Homo sapiens: one gene and its partners. The protein of the gene in region 3 purifies or fractionates together with the protein of the main gene of each other region. This does not show direct contact. Each region holds a gene or a part of one and is shown on either strand. Other genes may lie near its edges.

Evidence for each region. Proteins that work in one complex are often made in the same cells at the same time.
Region 1: the proteins of BPTF (region 3) and FIP1L1 fractionate together in Homo sapiens (co-fractionation; one large-scale study listed by BioGRID). This does not show direct contact.
Region 2: the proteins of BPTF (region 3) and LIN9 purify together in Homo sapiens (affinity purification with mass spectrometry, with the first as the bait; one large-scale study listed by BioGRID). This does not show direct contact.
Region 4: the proteins of BPTF (region 3) and TFAP4 fractionate together in Homo sapiens (co-fractionation; one large-scale study listed by BioGRID). This does not show direct contact.

What each region holds. Positions count from the first base shown.
Region 1 is NC_000004.12:53,422,211-53,426,235, reverse strand, and holds part of FIP1L1 (pre-mRNA 3'-end-processing factor FIP1), read right to left. Parts: intron 365-4,025; coding exon 271-364; intron 1-270.
Region 2 is NC_000001.11:226,285,070-226,289,094, forward strand, and holds part of LIN9 (protein lin-9 homolog), read right to left. Parts: intron 2,729-4,025; coding exon 2,595-2,728; intron 1,390-2,594; coding exon 1,264-1,389; intron 1-1,263. UniProt on the Homo sapiens protein: Acts as a tumor suppressor. Inhibits DNA synthesis. Its ability to inhibit oncogenic transformation is mediated through its association with RB1. Plays a role in the expression of genes required for the G1/S transition.
Region 3 is NC_000017.11:67,978,478-67,982,502, reverse strand, and holds part of BPTF (nucleosome-remodeling factor subunit BPTF), read right to left. Parts: intron 1,068-4,025; coding exon of another isoform or gene 1,061-1,067; exon of another isoform or gene 252-1,060; coding exon 215-251; 3' UTR 1-214. UniProt on the Homo sapiens protein: Regulatory subunit of the ATP-dependent NURF-1 and NURF-5 ISWI chromatin remodeling complexes, which form ordered nucleosome arrays on chromatin and facilitate access to DNA during DNA-templated processes such as DNA replication, transcription, and repair.
Region 4 is NC_000016.10:4,259,760-4,263,453, reverse strand, and holds part of TFAP4 (transcription factor AP-4), read left to right. Parts: intron 1-752; coding exon 753-918; intron 919-1,031; coding exon 1,032-1,130; intron 1,131-1,504; coding exon 1,505-1,675; intron 1,676-2,858; coding exon 2,859-2,999; intron 3,000-3,208; coding exon 3,209-3,364; intron 3,365-3,694.

The DNA of each region.
Region 1 (4,025 bases), on a different chromosome or scaffold from region 3:
CTTCTGGTCCCAAGCATTTCAGATAAGAGATACTCAACCTGTACTATGTTTCTACCAAGGAAAAGAAAGAAAACCCTATTAAAAAAAGATTCAGAGATTATAAATTCTAACTGGAAATGCCTTTATAATAAATGACTGGCTTCACATTTTAAATCTCTTTGTATCACCTAAAACACAGCATAGCACTATGACTATCTATTGAATAAATTAAATTATAATGTTGATATCATCCTTCAGTTAAAGAAAATTATTTATTTTAAAATACTAAACCTGTATGTTGCTGTTCTCATTTGCCCGTCGCCTGCCTTCTACTCGGCTGATAGTTATAGTCTGACCGATAACATCAATTGCCCCAGGTAATCTCCTGTAACATAAAAATTGAATCAATTCAGTTTCACCTAATTAGATGCTTAAAAAATAATAAAAGCAGTGAGAAATAAAAACAAAATGTGTTTGCAATAAATTTTAAAATAAAACCAGATCACAATACACATTGAAAAATATCCCTGAGTTTAAGCTCACTACTTTGCATTGTCATAAAAATTTTTATTAATAAACAAGCTAGAACCAACATACCCAACAATGATCATAATGTTAAGTTTTAAGTCTCTGTAGAGCTCTTCTACACTTACTAGTTTTAGTAGTCTCCAAATAAATTTATCTTTGTGAAATTAAATAAGACAGCAAATGCTAGACAAATGGAAATTTTGGGACCACTACAATTGTAACACATACTACAGCTCTATTACAGAAACTTTAAATATTCCCCAAAAAGGCCTGAAAATAATGCTCATTTTAACATACACAAGATATTTTCCTTGTGATATATTCCAAGTGTTAAAAAACATAAAAAAGGAACCAGTTTGCCATTTCTGATAACTTGCATTTAGATAGAAAAATTCAAATATTTAAATACCCGCCTCACCTCTACAATCTTTTTAAAGTTTATAAGGATATGGAAAAATAGTCTATCATAAAACAATGCTATAAATTTAAGAGAAAAACCTAGTAAGTTGTATTTTAAATAAAATAATGTTAAAAGCTATTATGCAGATAAAGGACTTTACAAAAGTATGCATGCCTAAGATGATATAGAAGTCACTTGGAGAAATAGGCAATGAAAAGTGGATGCAAATTAGATGAATTTCTCTTCATCTATATTTCAGTTCTGAACAATACTGCCTTTAAAACTTTATAGAAGCAAAACAATTAAAATACCATAGATCCTTCCACAGTCACTAGATTAGGCTCCTAAAATGACAAATAACAGCAGCTACCATAGGTTGGATGCCAAACCCATTATATCTAAACTTCACAAAAACTGAAAAATTACTGTATACTTGTTAGAGACAAGCCATGGTCCAAAGTGAAATCACTGACACAAGCATGAATTAAATAGCAAAACTAACTTTCAAACCTGAGTCTTTCTAATCCCAAAGACTATAGACCTCCCCTCCCCTTGAGCTAGGTTTCCTTCCAGCAAGACCTTTGAGGAATTTAAGGCTTTTCTGGAAATCATGAGTTAGTAAGAGTTTATCTCAAGTAGACCTTGAAACACTCCACAAATTATTTTGTGCTAACAAAGACAGCCCTATAAAAAGCACATCATGACATCTGAAATGTTTTCAAGTACATAGTCAGTTCCCACTTACCATCCCTTGCCCACTTAAGACTTCCCTTCTCTATAACTTTAGTACAATTTAAAAATGTTCAAGCCTTTCTAATTTTATGCCTGAGTCACTGACTTCCTAGATTTCCTCATGATCCCAAAGATCATGAATGATTTCATTGGAGGATTAACATATCCTCCAATACAGCTGGGGAAAGATCTTAATATTCACATGTTACAAAAATCCAAATATCTCTACAATAAAACAAATATTGCTTCCATTTCTTCCCTATAATTTAAATTGCAAAGCTATGCCTACCATGACTGCATTATCAAAGCACATGCCATCAGCCCTCTGATATACAAACATTTCATATTCCAACATCCTACTAAATACAGGTGTGCATTCTGAGGCTGTAATTTCCTCTCTGTTAATTGCTGCCCTCCATTGTCAAAATTTTTATTTTCGCTCTATTTCCTTTTCTACTATTTTCTCTTGCCAATCACTGGACTCTCTCCTTTGCATTTTTAAATTTATTCCCATCAAGAACAAATTCTACCAAATTTGTTTGGACTTGCAAGTCAGATAGCAAATTCTCCAAATTGTTAAAAGTGGTAAAAATTAGATCTAGATATAACTTTCCTGTTGAGGGGAAAATTTTCTATAGCCTGTCTTTTACCATTTATTTCTGAGGATCTCTAGTTTTCAAAAAGTCTGGGACACATGGAAGTATTCACCTCTTAAAATGTACCTTAAATATGGTCAGAAGTCTAATTAGTTTTTTTCAACTTTAAATTGATTGTTTTTAATCACTAAAGATTCAAAATGGCAAATACTATGTTTCTAAAAACATATAACTGAGAAATCAGCCTTAACAAGTATATATCCCTAAAGGGAGTTCAGAAAATTACAATTCTCCACATTTTCAAAACATCTCCTTGTGCCCGTATTTTTTAACCACATAAACTGATTTACTTTAATCATATAAATTAAGCTTACCGTTTTGTTCCAAAATGTTTTATGATAAGACACACAGTATGTACCACAGCAACAAAAAGCACATAATATCTAACACTGACAAATAATTTAAAAATCTAATATTATTCTGATGCCACATTATGGAAAAAAATATTGAACCATATTATTCCACGAAAGTTCTTAATGGACAGCTTTTTCTTTCATTGCTTAAGAAGATTTAATAGAGTTTCCCTATGAGGAAATCTACTGTAACTTAAGAGTTCCCCAAAGCGTAGGTTTGATTAGGCCAACAAACTTGTTCAGTAAGGTAGACAGCTAATGCTATTATCAAAATCCTCTTCTCCATATTGGACTCAACCATCTAGTAAAAAGCTAAGAAACTAACCACTCTGGGTGTCTGAGTTAATGTACAGTTTAAACAGGCAGTAAATGTTCCCAAGAGCCTCTACCTCCCCTCCTGGCACAGTAAATGAATATAAAAATATCTCTGAAGTTACAATGGAATTAAATTATCATATTTTGATGATTCTGATATCCCAGAAAGAATCTGAGGGCTCCCTGCAGAGATGCAACAGAAAGTTTAAGATGACAAATCAGGGCTAATAGAAGATAGACAAAAGGCCATAAATTGATCTCTGAAGGTCAGGCTCACGCATGTAATGCCAACACTTTGGGAGCCTGAGGCGGGAGGATTACTTAAGCCCAGGAATTCAAGACCAGCCTGGGCAACATGGCGAGACTTTGTGTCTACAAATAATTTAAAATATCAGCTAGGCATAGTAGCACATGCTTGTGGTCCCAGCTATTCAGAGGGCTTAGGTGAGAGGATTGCTTGAGTCCAGGAGATGAAGGATGCAGTAAACTGTGATTGTGCCACTGCACTCCAGACTGGGCAACAAAACAAGAGCCTGTCTCAAAAAAAAAATATATATATATACATATATATATATCTCAGCTGCTTTTTCTTGGAAGCCAAAGCAAAGGACATCATTAACAACAAATGTCTTTAATGTGCATTAAGATTAAAACAAAGCATTTGCTCTAAGATTGTTTTCCTGGTAATGACAGCTAGTATTTATGGAGCACCTACTATGCGCAAGGTAAGCACTGTTCTAAATACTTTATATATATTTAGTCTTCATGATAAACCCATAAGGTAGCAACTCTCATTATTGTCATTTTACAAATGAGAATAAACAGAAAAAGATTCTCCTCTGAGTCTAAGAGAAAATATGAGTACAATAGTTTTTAAACTTTATTGACTACAAAACACAGTAAGAAGTACACTTTACACAGCAATCCAGTACCCACAATACATTAAAAACTAAAAAAGATTCATGAAACAATACTTAAAAAAGGAAAAATGGTGACACTAAGATAAAATGTAATTTTATTAATATTTAAATATAGCATAGGAAAAAAGCAAAAGAAACAATA
Region 2 (4,025 bases), on a different chromosome or scaffold from region 3:
TAAAGGACTATAAGATTAAATAATGTTATGGTAAGAGAATAGAAGATCAATTAACGAGAAATATTATGACACTCAAACTACAGAACTATGACAAAACAGTAAATAGTGACCAATATCCCACTCTGATGGACAATAATTAGAAACAGTGTAACTCAATTTGCTCAAACACGCAAAATGATAGCAAAAAGTCACCAAATGGCTACTGTAATTACCAAAGGCCATAAATTATGAGTATGAAACACACTAAATAACATATCAAATTTTAATTTTGTTATTATAAGAAATATTAAAAACATCATCATCAAGGTCATCTTGATGACAGTTTAATTAAAAGTTCTCTCTGTATTTCATCACCATCTAAAGAAATCATTAAATCTAAATTCCATTTCTATTTGTCCAAATCACTTTATATTTACAGACCTTCCTTGAACTTTCCCACCATTTAAAATGAAAAAGTCTTGCACATACTTTTTACCAGGCAGATAGACATAATGTGAGAACTAATGATCTAATTATTCTTCTAACATATTTCCAATTTTCACTCAAAAGTAATATAAGGTTTTCCAATGTGTTACCAGGATAACACTGGAAAAGAAAAAATCATTTCACATGAAGAGCAATTCTCAGGAAGTAACATATTAGATAGATTAATTTGTTTTCTACTTTTATATAAAATAAAATAGGCACTTCTGGGAAGGCTCCTGAGATTATAAAGGATTTCACAAAAGATAACAAAAATGTACACAGAACTTTACAGCATCCTTAAATACTTTTTAGGACATTCTTAAATATTTTTTGGAACACAGAGGGACATAGATAATGTAAAACTAAAAAATTACGTTGAAAACCTGTGATCCTAACAAAAATGAAATTGTGCATTTAATTATAAGATGCATACGTATAAACAGCACCTACATTAAAGTTGGTTAACAGGATATATTTAACATATAATCAATTATTCTGAAAAGTTATGTTTTGGTACTAGTCATTTTAAAGATTAAAAAAATCAATGTACTAATGATACTAACAACTATTATTTATTGATTTTATTTTTTAATTCTTTTTTAGAGGAATGGTCTCACTGTGTTGCCCAGGCTAGAGTGCAGTGACTATTCACAGGTGTAATCACAGCATACTACAGCCCTGAACCCCTGGCCTTAAGCAAATACCCCATCTTAGCCTTCCAAGTAACTGGGATTATAAGTACATGCACTGCTACTGGCTTGATTTTATTTTAAACAAAAACAAAAACATTATTTTTACCTCCGTGGTTTTCCCATAAGCCGCCGAATTTTTCCCCATTCTACTCTTGTTAACTTTCTTGTTTTCAAATTAGGAAAAGATTCCTTTAGACATACACAGAAGTCATTATCACCTTCAAAAAGTGGTCTGTAAAACAGATATAGTATTTTAATGGTTACATACAATGTGTTACTTTCTTAAAACACATAAAATCACAAAATGCTAAACTTTCACTTCTACCCCATATATATATATAAACTGGCACAAATTCAAAGTGCTAAAACTAAATCCTTGGCATTTGTGAAACATCTAATGTCGTGTAAAAGTTGCTCAGGAAATATTATTTGTGTTGTGATTCCAAGAGACACTGATTTTTGTTCAATCTCTTATACAGGTATATCCTTTGGGAGGCTATCGTGGCCCTGGCCTTGTATCAGGTGAAGATAAACCAAGTTAGCTACAAAGTATCTTTGTCCCAAAGGAATACCATCACCAAGGAGTCCTCTTTGGAATTAAACCAGTCTTGGGACACTGGAGGACTCCAGAGGGTTAGATTAGCTTGGGGGATCCCAGAAGAACTCAGATTACACTGAGACACCCTGAAAACTCTCTTAAGCCTATGGACAAAAATAAAACAATTCTATTCATGAGTCTGGGAAACCAGGAACCAGTGTTGGCAATGATACATAAATGCCTTGGGCTCAAATATGAACATTCATGAGATTCACAAGCTCCAGAGTAGGCAATTGGTATAGAAAACAGAGAAGGGAAGAAAATATAAATATCCAGCAGAGCAAGCAGCAATGACTGGCATATGAGGAAGGATTATAAATAAGAACTTTTCCTCAGTAAATTCCATTGTTGAATAATTGTATTTCAGCCAAATCTCATACTACGTCATACTTAAGCATATGTGTATACCTAGCGTGCTTAAGTACCACATCCAAACTAGAAAGACTACCCTCTTAAAAATCTTAAGCCATTTTTACCATTAGTAATGGTTTCTCTATGATTATACCAGCACTTAACATCTCAATTATAAAATGAATCTCATTCACTGCAAATAATGGTGTTTTAAGGTATCTCTACTCCATAGTCTTTAAGAATTCTAACACAGAAATTATACCGTAATCAATTCTTCACAAAAATGTACAGTTTTCTTCCCCAAAAAGGATAACAGGGAAGAAAACTATGACAAATAGAATAGATCCAACTGGAATGTGGAACAGAAAAATGAATTTAGAGAAAAATAAGATCAAAGTAGACCTATAGAAAATGTTGTAGCTTAAAACACTTGAAAAACTTAAATTTCTGATTCAAGTAATATTCATAATATAAGCCATGATACATACTTATCTATATTTGAATAGAACCACTCGTATATACACCATTTATGTGCTTTAGGAAGCTTGAGCAGATTACGTAATCGAAAACCAATCTTCTGTGAAGCTTTCTTATCTGGTGTTGACATTGTTGCTGTAAATTTCTATACAATAAAAAAAAGAGATTAATTTATGGCTCCATTAAGTAAAAATGAACATTTATAACCCTGAATAAATTTGCAAAAGGTAAATTATGTTTAAGTACTTAAAAAGGTTCACTGATTCACTGATATTCAACATGGAATTTTGTTGCTGTTTTAAACACTCCGATTATTTTTGATTATTGCCTTTTTTTTTTTTGACAGTCTTGCTCTGTTGCCCAGGCTGGAATGCAGTGGCACAATCTCGGCTCACTGCAACCTCTGCCTCCCGGGTTCAAGCTACTCTCTTGTCTCAACCTCCCAAGTAGCTGGGACTACAGGCGCACGCCACCACACCCAGCTAATTTTTGTATTTTTAGTAGAGATGGGGTTTCACCATGTTGGCCAGGCTGGTCTCAAACTCCTGACCTCAGGTAATCTGCCTGCCTCAGCCTCCCAAAGTGCTGGGATTACTGGTGTGAGCCACAGCGCCCAGCTTAGATGGATACTTTTTTAACCTAATAAAACATTTCTCCCCACTCCAACCCAAAAACCAGTATCGTAATATTAAAAGACGATGAGAACGACAAATATTTCAACTACCACCACTAACCTAGTATGACAAAGATTTCAACTACCACCACTATTTCATAACACTGTTTTGAAGGAATTGGCCAATCAGGTAAGAAGAATAAAATTTAGAAAGAAGATAAAACTACCATTTCCTTGTAGGTGAAAACTCAAGAAAATCAACTGTAACAATTAAAAACAGTAAGAAAATTTAATGAAATGGGTAAATACAAAGTTGATATACAAAAACCATGATTCAAAAAAATCACTATATGTAAATAATAACTGGACAGGCCATAAGAGTTTATATCCTGTTTATAACAGCACAAAAATGGACATAAACAAAAAAATTAAATATGTAGGAATATACTTACGAAACATGCAAGACTGATATGGAAAAAAATTAAGTCTACTGTGAAATACTATGAACTAAGTGGAACTACAATCAGTTCTTAGGTAGTCTCAATGTTACCTATATATATCATTTCCCATAAATTATAATATTAGTCCAATCCCAGTCAAAATGCCAACAGGATTTTTTTTTCCTAGTCAAGTTGATTCTAAAGTCTACATGGAAAAATAAATGCACAAAAATATTTAGGAAAAAATCTTATGCTGGGCGCAGTGGCTCACGCCTGTAATCCCAGCACTTTGGGAGACCGAGATGGGCGGATCACAAGGTCAGGAGCTCCAGACAGCCAGGCCAATATAGTGAAACCCCATCTCTACTAAAAATACAAAAATTAGCCGG
Region 3 (4,025 bases):
CTTGACAAGATAATGGTGTCGTTGACTTTGCTTTTTTCTTGTCCGTTGGACAAAATTGGCCAAGAATATAATTGGACTGTTATGACCAATAAAAACGAAGTTTAGGTCAAGTCTTGTCAGGATAGCCTGACTAAAAACATCTGGCTCCTTAATTTAAAATAGTTCAGACAACCAGATTCTTGCTGTGTTTTATGTTAGGTTAACACGCTGAACTTTAAGAAGCTGTAGACTGCAGTTTGTTGTTATGAGACCTACAGAATATAGAAAAAAGGGAACAATTAAGCACCCTTCATTTTTGAAAACAATGATGCTTTATGCGGATGCCAAGGTCAGTCAGTCTGGGAGAAGCAGCCATGTTCTTTCATTCACCCTTGGCAAGCGAATAGAAAAGAACGATTAAGAAAATTTTAACCTATAATATTAAAACTTTTCACTGTACACTAAACATAATAGCTCACTGGAAAAAGCCAATATTTAAATATATATATATATATATATATATATATATATATATATATTTGTCTAATAAAGATTACAACATTTTCAGCCAACTGGACAAATAGAGGCATTTACAGAAGCATTACCATTGTGGTGAAAGGTGTGTGTGTGTGTGTGTGTGTGTGTGTGTGTGTGTGTTTATTTACATTGATGAGGGGAATATAAAGGGAAAAATTACGCTAAAACAAAAGAAAAAGCAATCTTAAAATCACATTTTTCTATTAAAGTCCAGAAAGTCTCCCTTCTAGTTTCACAGTTTTATTCACAACTTTCATTAGTAAACCAAATTACTGTACAGTTACCAGGACTAAGTCAAAGGACTTTATATTGAAATAGCAGATAAATACAGTATTCCAAGAGTTTACAATTTTTAAATACATTGTTCAACATGGCTGCTAGAGTAAATTTTTTACCACGATACATCTTTAACATTAAAAAATTATATTAACTAATCTGACTTTTTGGGGGGCAATTTTGAATTAGGTAATCACGAGGTACAATAAAACAAAGAGTGACCCCAACATCCAGTTCTGATTCCAGTTAAAAATTCAGACTAAAGATATCACAATCTGTAAGAAAAGAAAGAATATGGATGGTATAAATGATGAATTATAACAAAGTGCAGTAATGAAAACAATGTGCAAACAATGCTGGAGATCATAAAATGGGAAAATATGGCAAAGGAAATTCTGAAAATCCATAAATAAATCAATTTTCAATAACTGGCTAGTTATGTTTCATTCTGCCTTAAATCTGGAAAACAATAGAAATTCCCTAAAAAGGCAACAGCAAGTTGCCCTTATACAACTCTTTACATTGTAATTTTGTTTTGTTTTGTTTTGTTTTGAAACAAGGTCTCACTCTGTAGCACAGTCTGGAGTGCAGTGGCGCAATCACAGCTCACTGCAGCCTCAACCTCCAGGGCTCAGGTGATCCTCCTACCTCAGCCTCCTGGGTAGCTGGGACTACAGGCACATGCCACCATGCCCGGCTAATTTTTTGTATTTTCTGTAGGGATGGGGTTTCCCCATGTTGCCCAGGCTGGTCTCAAACTCCTGGGCTCAAGCGAACTGCCTGCTTTGGCTTCTCAAAGTGTTGGTATCACAGGCATGCACCATTGCACACAGCCTAATTTGTTTATTTAAGCAGAATTGAGCAAACTTCTCAATTCAGCTCCCATGTGCTTTAATGAAAATTATGTCAACTTGAGTATATTTAAAAACTACATAAAATAACCACGTGGCAAGAAGACATCCTAAGTGGCCCCTTCACTGTGCAGGCCCAGCCTAGGCCTCCATCTCTCCTTTACCAATTCCCTTTGTCTTGCCTACAGTCCCCAGGACCTCCAGGCAATTTCCTCTCCTTCATCAGCAGTTGCCAGCAGTCATCCTGTGGGCTCTGCCAGCAAGCTGGCAGCAGGGTAGGATTCACACTCCTTGGCTTCTACCTCACAGTTACCACCAAAGGCCTTCCCAATTTAAAAAAGCAATTTTAGAAACTGAACCAGAGGAATAACCACGATGTACAAATGAAAAAGCATAGAGGGGCTTATAATGAGAAGTTGTGCTCCTCTGTCCTACCTTAACTCCATCTGAAATCCAGGCTCCCTATGATCAATCCCTTTGACTTTTCAGTTCTCTGGGTAGATGTATTTTTCTTTTTGAGATGGAGCCTCAGTGTTGCCCAGGCTGGAGTGCAGTGGCAGGATCTCAGCTCACTGCAACCTCCTCCTCCCAGGTTCAAATGATTCTCCTGCCTCAGCCTCCCCAGTAGCTGGGATTACAGGTGCCTGCCCCCAGGCCCAGCTAATTTTTGTATTTTTAGTAGAGACGAGGTTTTACCATGTTGGCCAGGCTGGTCTTGAACCCCTGACCTCAAGTGATTCACCCACCTCAGCCTCCCACAGTGTTAGGATTACAGGCATAAGCCACCACACCCGGCCTGGGTAGGTTTTTTTTTGTTTGTTTGTTTTCAGACGGAGTCTCACTCTTGTTGCCCAGGCTAGAGTGTAGTGGTGCGATCTGCAACCTCCGCCTCCAAGGTTCAAGTGATTCTCCTGTCTCAGCCTCCCAAGTAGCTGAGACTTATAAGCGTGCACCACCACACCTAGCTAATTTTTTTATTTTAGTGTAGACGGGGTTTCACGATGTTGGCCAGGCTGGTCTTGAACTCCTGACCTTAGGTGATCCGCCCGCCTCGGCCTTCCAAAGGGCTGGGATTACAGGCATGAGCCACTGCGCCCGGCCAGGGTAATTTCTTATACTGCTATTTCTTGTTTTATCAACTTTTGTTTAAGCCCTGCTATGGCAAGGAGAACCAAGCTCACTTAACCATTTCCCAACCTCCCTTTTTTGAGTCCAAGTTTTATTTCCCTATAATTTAAAAATTATATCATTCTATGCTTTGTCTATAGGGTGATTCTAAAAGTCGAAAACCAATGTCATTATTTTTATTATCTTTGAGACGGAGTTTTGCTCTTGTGGCCCAGGCTGGAGTGCAGTGGCGCGGTCTTGGTGCACTGCAACCTCCGTCTCCCAGGTTCAAGTGATTCTGTCTCAGCCTCCTGAGTAGCTGGGATTACAGGCATGTGCAACCACACCTGGCTAATTTTTGTACTTTTAGTAGAGACAGGGTTTCATCATGTTGGCCAGGCTGGTCTCGACTCCTGATCTCAGATGATCCACGTGCCTTGGCCTTCCAAAGTGTTGGTATTACAGATGTAAACCACCGTGCCCGGCCCAATGTCATTATTTACGTTACTACGAAAATGTAAATATTTTTCTCTGTAGCACCTAGTCCTTTGCTAACAGGGCCTTTTTTTTTTTTTTTTTTTTTGAGACAGGGTCTTGTTGTGTCTTCCAGGCTGGAGTGCAGTGGCATGAAGATGGCTCACTGCAGCGTCTACCTCATGGGCTCAATCCTCCCACCTCAGCCTCTGAAGCAGCTGGGACCACAGGTGTACATCACCATGCCTGGCTAATTTTTGTGTTTTGTAAAGATGGGGTTTCCTCATGTTGCCCAGGCTGGTCTAGAATTCCTGGGCTCAAGCATCCTCTTGCCTCAGCCTCTCAATGTGTTGGGATTACAGGCATGAGCCACCGTGCCCAGCTAACAGGGTACACTTACACAACTTTCTGTTTTTAGTGGCGTTTCTAATTGCCTTTCATTTTTATCCCTGACGTTCTTTGGCTTAATCATAGCCTTATGTTTTTCTGTCTTAAACAAATTATCTAATGTATGAGTCATTTTCTTGCTCTACTGAGCCTCTGGGGAGTGCTCCATTCTCCTGCTAGGATTTGGTCTGCTGACATTTTACAGCCTGCTGTATAAATGTCATCTTGGGTCAGAGTAATTCTCATTGCTTTCCTGAACCACTTGTTTTCTGAACTCAAATAAACAAAAATTTCTGGCCGGGCACGGTGGCTCACATCTGTAATCCCAGCACTTTGGGAGGCTGAGGCAGGCGGATCACGAGGTCTGCAGTTTGAGACCGGCTTGGTCAACATGGTGAAACCCCGTCTCTACTA
Region 4 (3,694 bases), on a different chromosome or scaffold from region 3:
GAGGCGCTCCAGGTGCCTAGCAAATCACTCAGAAGTGTTCCAGGAGCGGGGACAGCGTCCCTGAATGTCGTCTGCATCCCGCGTGCATCAGAATCACACCACGCACGTTTCTGGGCCCCACCGGGCCTGCTAGTCAGACGCTGGGGCCAGCACCCGTCGTCTGCATAGTTTCTAAGCTCTTGGATGTTTTGATGCTCAGACACACTGGGAATTCTGTTCCGGAGGAGAGACTGCTCCCTGTGAGGAAAGCCAGGGAGGGGATGGGTTTTTGTTGTTGTTGTTGAGACAAGGTCTTGCTCTGTTGCCCAGACTGAAGTGCAGTGGCGTGATCATAGCTCACTGCAGCCTCCAACTCCTGGGCTCAAGCGATCCTCCCACTTCAGCCTCCTGAGTAGCTGGGACTACAGGCATGCACCACCACACCTGGCTAATTTTATTTTTTTGTAGAGACAGGGTCTCACTACGTTGCCTAGGCTGATCTCAAACTCTTAGGCTCAATGATCCTTGGCCTTGACCTCCCAAAGAACTGGGATTACTGTGCCTGGCCCGGGGTGGGTTCTGAGCGGACTATCTTACCCGCAGCCAGCTGATTCAGTCCGCCCCGGTGTCCCAGAGAGCACCCCTCCATCACTCTCTGGGGGTGGCCTGGCATCTTTTGCAGCAGGGGAGGGATGCAGTTTCCACTGGGGCCCTCTGGAGATGAATGATGAAGAGGGCGCCTTGGCCGAGCCTGTCCCTGTCCTCTCTGGCAGCCTTGCCAACATTCCACTAACCCCCGAGACTCAGCGGGACCAGGAGCGGCGGATTCGGCGGGAGATCGCCAACAGCAACGAGCGGAGACGCATGCAGAGCATCAACGCGGGATTCCAGTCCCTCAAGACCCTCATCCCCCACACAGACGGAGAGAAGCTCAGCAAGGTGGGTGAGAGCAGGGAGGGCTTCCTGGAGGAGCCGGCAGGTTCCCGCTGGGAGAGGAAAGTGAGCTCTGGTAAACACTGCCAGCCTGACTCTCGGCTTTTCCACGCCCTCAGGCAGCCATTCTCCAGCAGACAGCCGAGTACATCTTCTCCCTGGAGCAGGAGAAGACCAGGCTCTTGCAGCAGAACACACAGCTCAAGCGCTTCATCCAGGTGCGCCCTGTCCTTCATGGCTCCCTCTCCCTGGCATGGGCATGCCTTGGACCCAGCCATGGGCCTGGGACTCAGGTGTGGCTGCAGGCCCCTTCTTGCCCACTGACAAGTACTTCCAGGCACTTTTTTTCCTGCCCCGGCCTCAGTTTCCCCATCGGTCAAGTGCGGTGGAGTGGGCTCTGGAAGGAGCCAGGTGACTGTTATGTAAAGCAGCCCATTCTCCTGGCATTTGGCTGGTTTGTTGGACTTGCAGAAGGGGCTCCCTAATGAAGATTCACCTGTGTTGGGCAGCTTTGGGGGGCTGCGATGGAACCCCAATCTCCGTGGTGGTACCGAGGTGTCAGGCACACTGACCGACTCCTTGGGGTCCCCAGGAGCTGAGCGGCTCGTCCCCCAAGCGACGGCGGGCAGAGGACAAGGACGAAGGCATAGGCTCCCCGGACATCTGGGAGGACGAGAAGGCGGAGGACCTGCGGCGGGAGATGATTGAGCTGCGGCAGCAGCTGGACAAGGAGCGCTCGGTGCGCATGATGCTGGAGGAGCAGGTGAGGCAGCGCCCTCTGCTGGGCACGGCGCGCGGTGCAGAGGGCGTGGAGCCTGGGGTCGCGCCTCTTGCTCTGCGGCCCTCGGTGGAGCCCTATTTACAGGAGCACCTACTGCGGTGCCAGGCCTAGGAGTGGGGAGCAAGCCAGACACGTCTCTGCCCTTGGGGGCCACCGTCTGCGTTGGGGTGGGGGAGATTAGCCAAAGGATCTCAAAAATGTAACCATGCTGTGGGAGGCCGAGGCGGGTGGATCACCTGAGGTCAGCAGATCGATACCATCCTGGCTAACACGGTGAAACCCCGTCTCTACTAAAAATACAAAAAAAAAAAAAATTAGCCGGGCGTGGTGGTGGGTGCCTGTAGTCCCCGCTGTTTGGGAGGCTGAGGCAGGAGAATGGCGTGAACCTGGGAGGCAGAGCTTGCAGTGAGCCGAGATCGTGCCACTGCACTCCAGTCTGGGAGACAGAGCGAGACTCCATCTCAAAAAAAAAAAAATGTAACCGTGATGGGCTGGGTATGGTGGCTCACACCTATAATCCCAGCACTTTGCGGGGCTGAGGTGGGAGGATCGCTTGAGCCCAGGAGTTTGAGATCAGCCTGGGAAGCATAGTGAGACTCTGTCTCTACCAAAAAAGATACAAAAATTAGCCAGGTGTGGTGGGGTGTGCCTGTAGTCCCGGTTACTCAGGAGGCTGAGCTGGGAGGATTGCTTGAGCCCAGGAGGTGGAGGCTGCAGTGAGCCATGATTGTGCCACTACACTGCAGCCTGAGTGACAGAAGGAGACCATGGCTCAAAAAAACCAAAAAACAAAAACAAAAAACCATATTGAAGGCCAGGCTGGAGCTGTGGCATCAGGAGGGGTTTTTCAAGGGACGCCCCACGGCATCTCCATGGAAGTGGGAAGTTGAGTCTCATAGTTAACCAAAGGACAGAGAAAGGTGTTCCCGGCAGAGGGAATAGCATAGGCAAAGACTCGGGCAGGAGGGAGCATGGTCCAGTGGAGGCCGAGGTGGGAGGCGAGAGGAGCCGGGGGCTGAAGGGCTCTGGAAAGGCTTCTGGCCTCTGTTGAGAGGGGCCCGCCCTGTGCTAGGGTTTTCAGCAGGAGTGAATGAGCTGCTGTGAGACTGACAGGGCAGGGTGTGCTCCCGGCCTTGGCCCTGAGCCCAGGTTGTCCTGCCTCCAGGTGCGCTCGCTGGAGGCCCACATGTACCCGGAAAAGCTCAAGGTGATTGCGCAGCAGGTGCAGCTGCAGCAGCAGCAGGAACAGGTGAGGCTGCTGCACCAGGAGAAGCTGGAGCGGGAACAGCAGCAGCTGCGGACCCAGGTGAGCAGGAGGCGCCCGGGAGTGGGCTCTGGGGACCGGGAAGGGGACAGGTGATCTTGAATGGCGGAAGCCTCTCCCTAGGCCACGTCCTCTCTGCTTCTTAATATAAAGGGGCAGAGGCAGTTATACATTGGCCAGCTCTGCATGAAAGGGAGGTGGATGGGCCAAGAGAAGCCTTGAGAGAAAGGCTGAGGGCCTCTGTCTTGCAGCTTCTGCCCCCTCCGGCCCCCACCCACCACCCCACGGTGATCGTGCCAGCACCGCCTCCTCCTCCCTCCCACCACATCAATGTCGTCACCATGGGCCCCTCCTCGGTCATCAACTCTGTTTCCACATCCCGGCAAAATCTGGACACCATCGTGCAGGTACCTGAGCTTGAGAAAGGGGCAGCTTGTGGGGGTCATACTCCGGGAACAGGCTCTTTAGGGGAGACTGGAAAAGAGGGGCAGAAGCGGAGGAAGATGGTGCTTGTGTGGGAAGGGGTGGAGGGCTGGAAGCCTTGGGGGGCCCCGTCCCTGGATCTGCAAGTGGAGAATGTGAGGGCCAGAGATCGGGGCAGGGCCTACCACGCCAGTAGGAGGAGTTGGCCAGGAAGACTGTCCCTTCCCTCAATATGGGGTTTCCGGAGAGGGTCCTTTGCTCCCAGAGCCCCCTGGTTACAGAGTTCCTGCATCCAGCTCTTGGGTTGGTCCGGA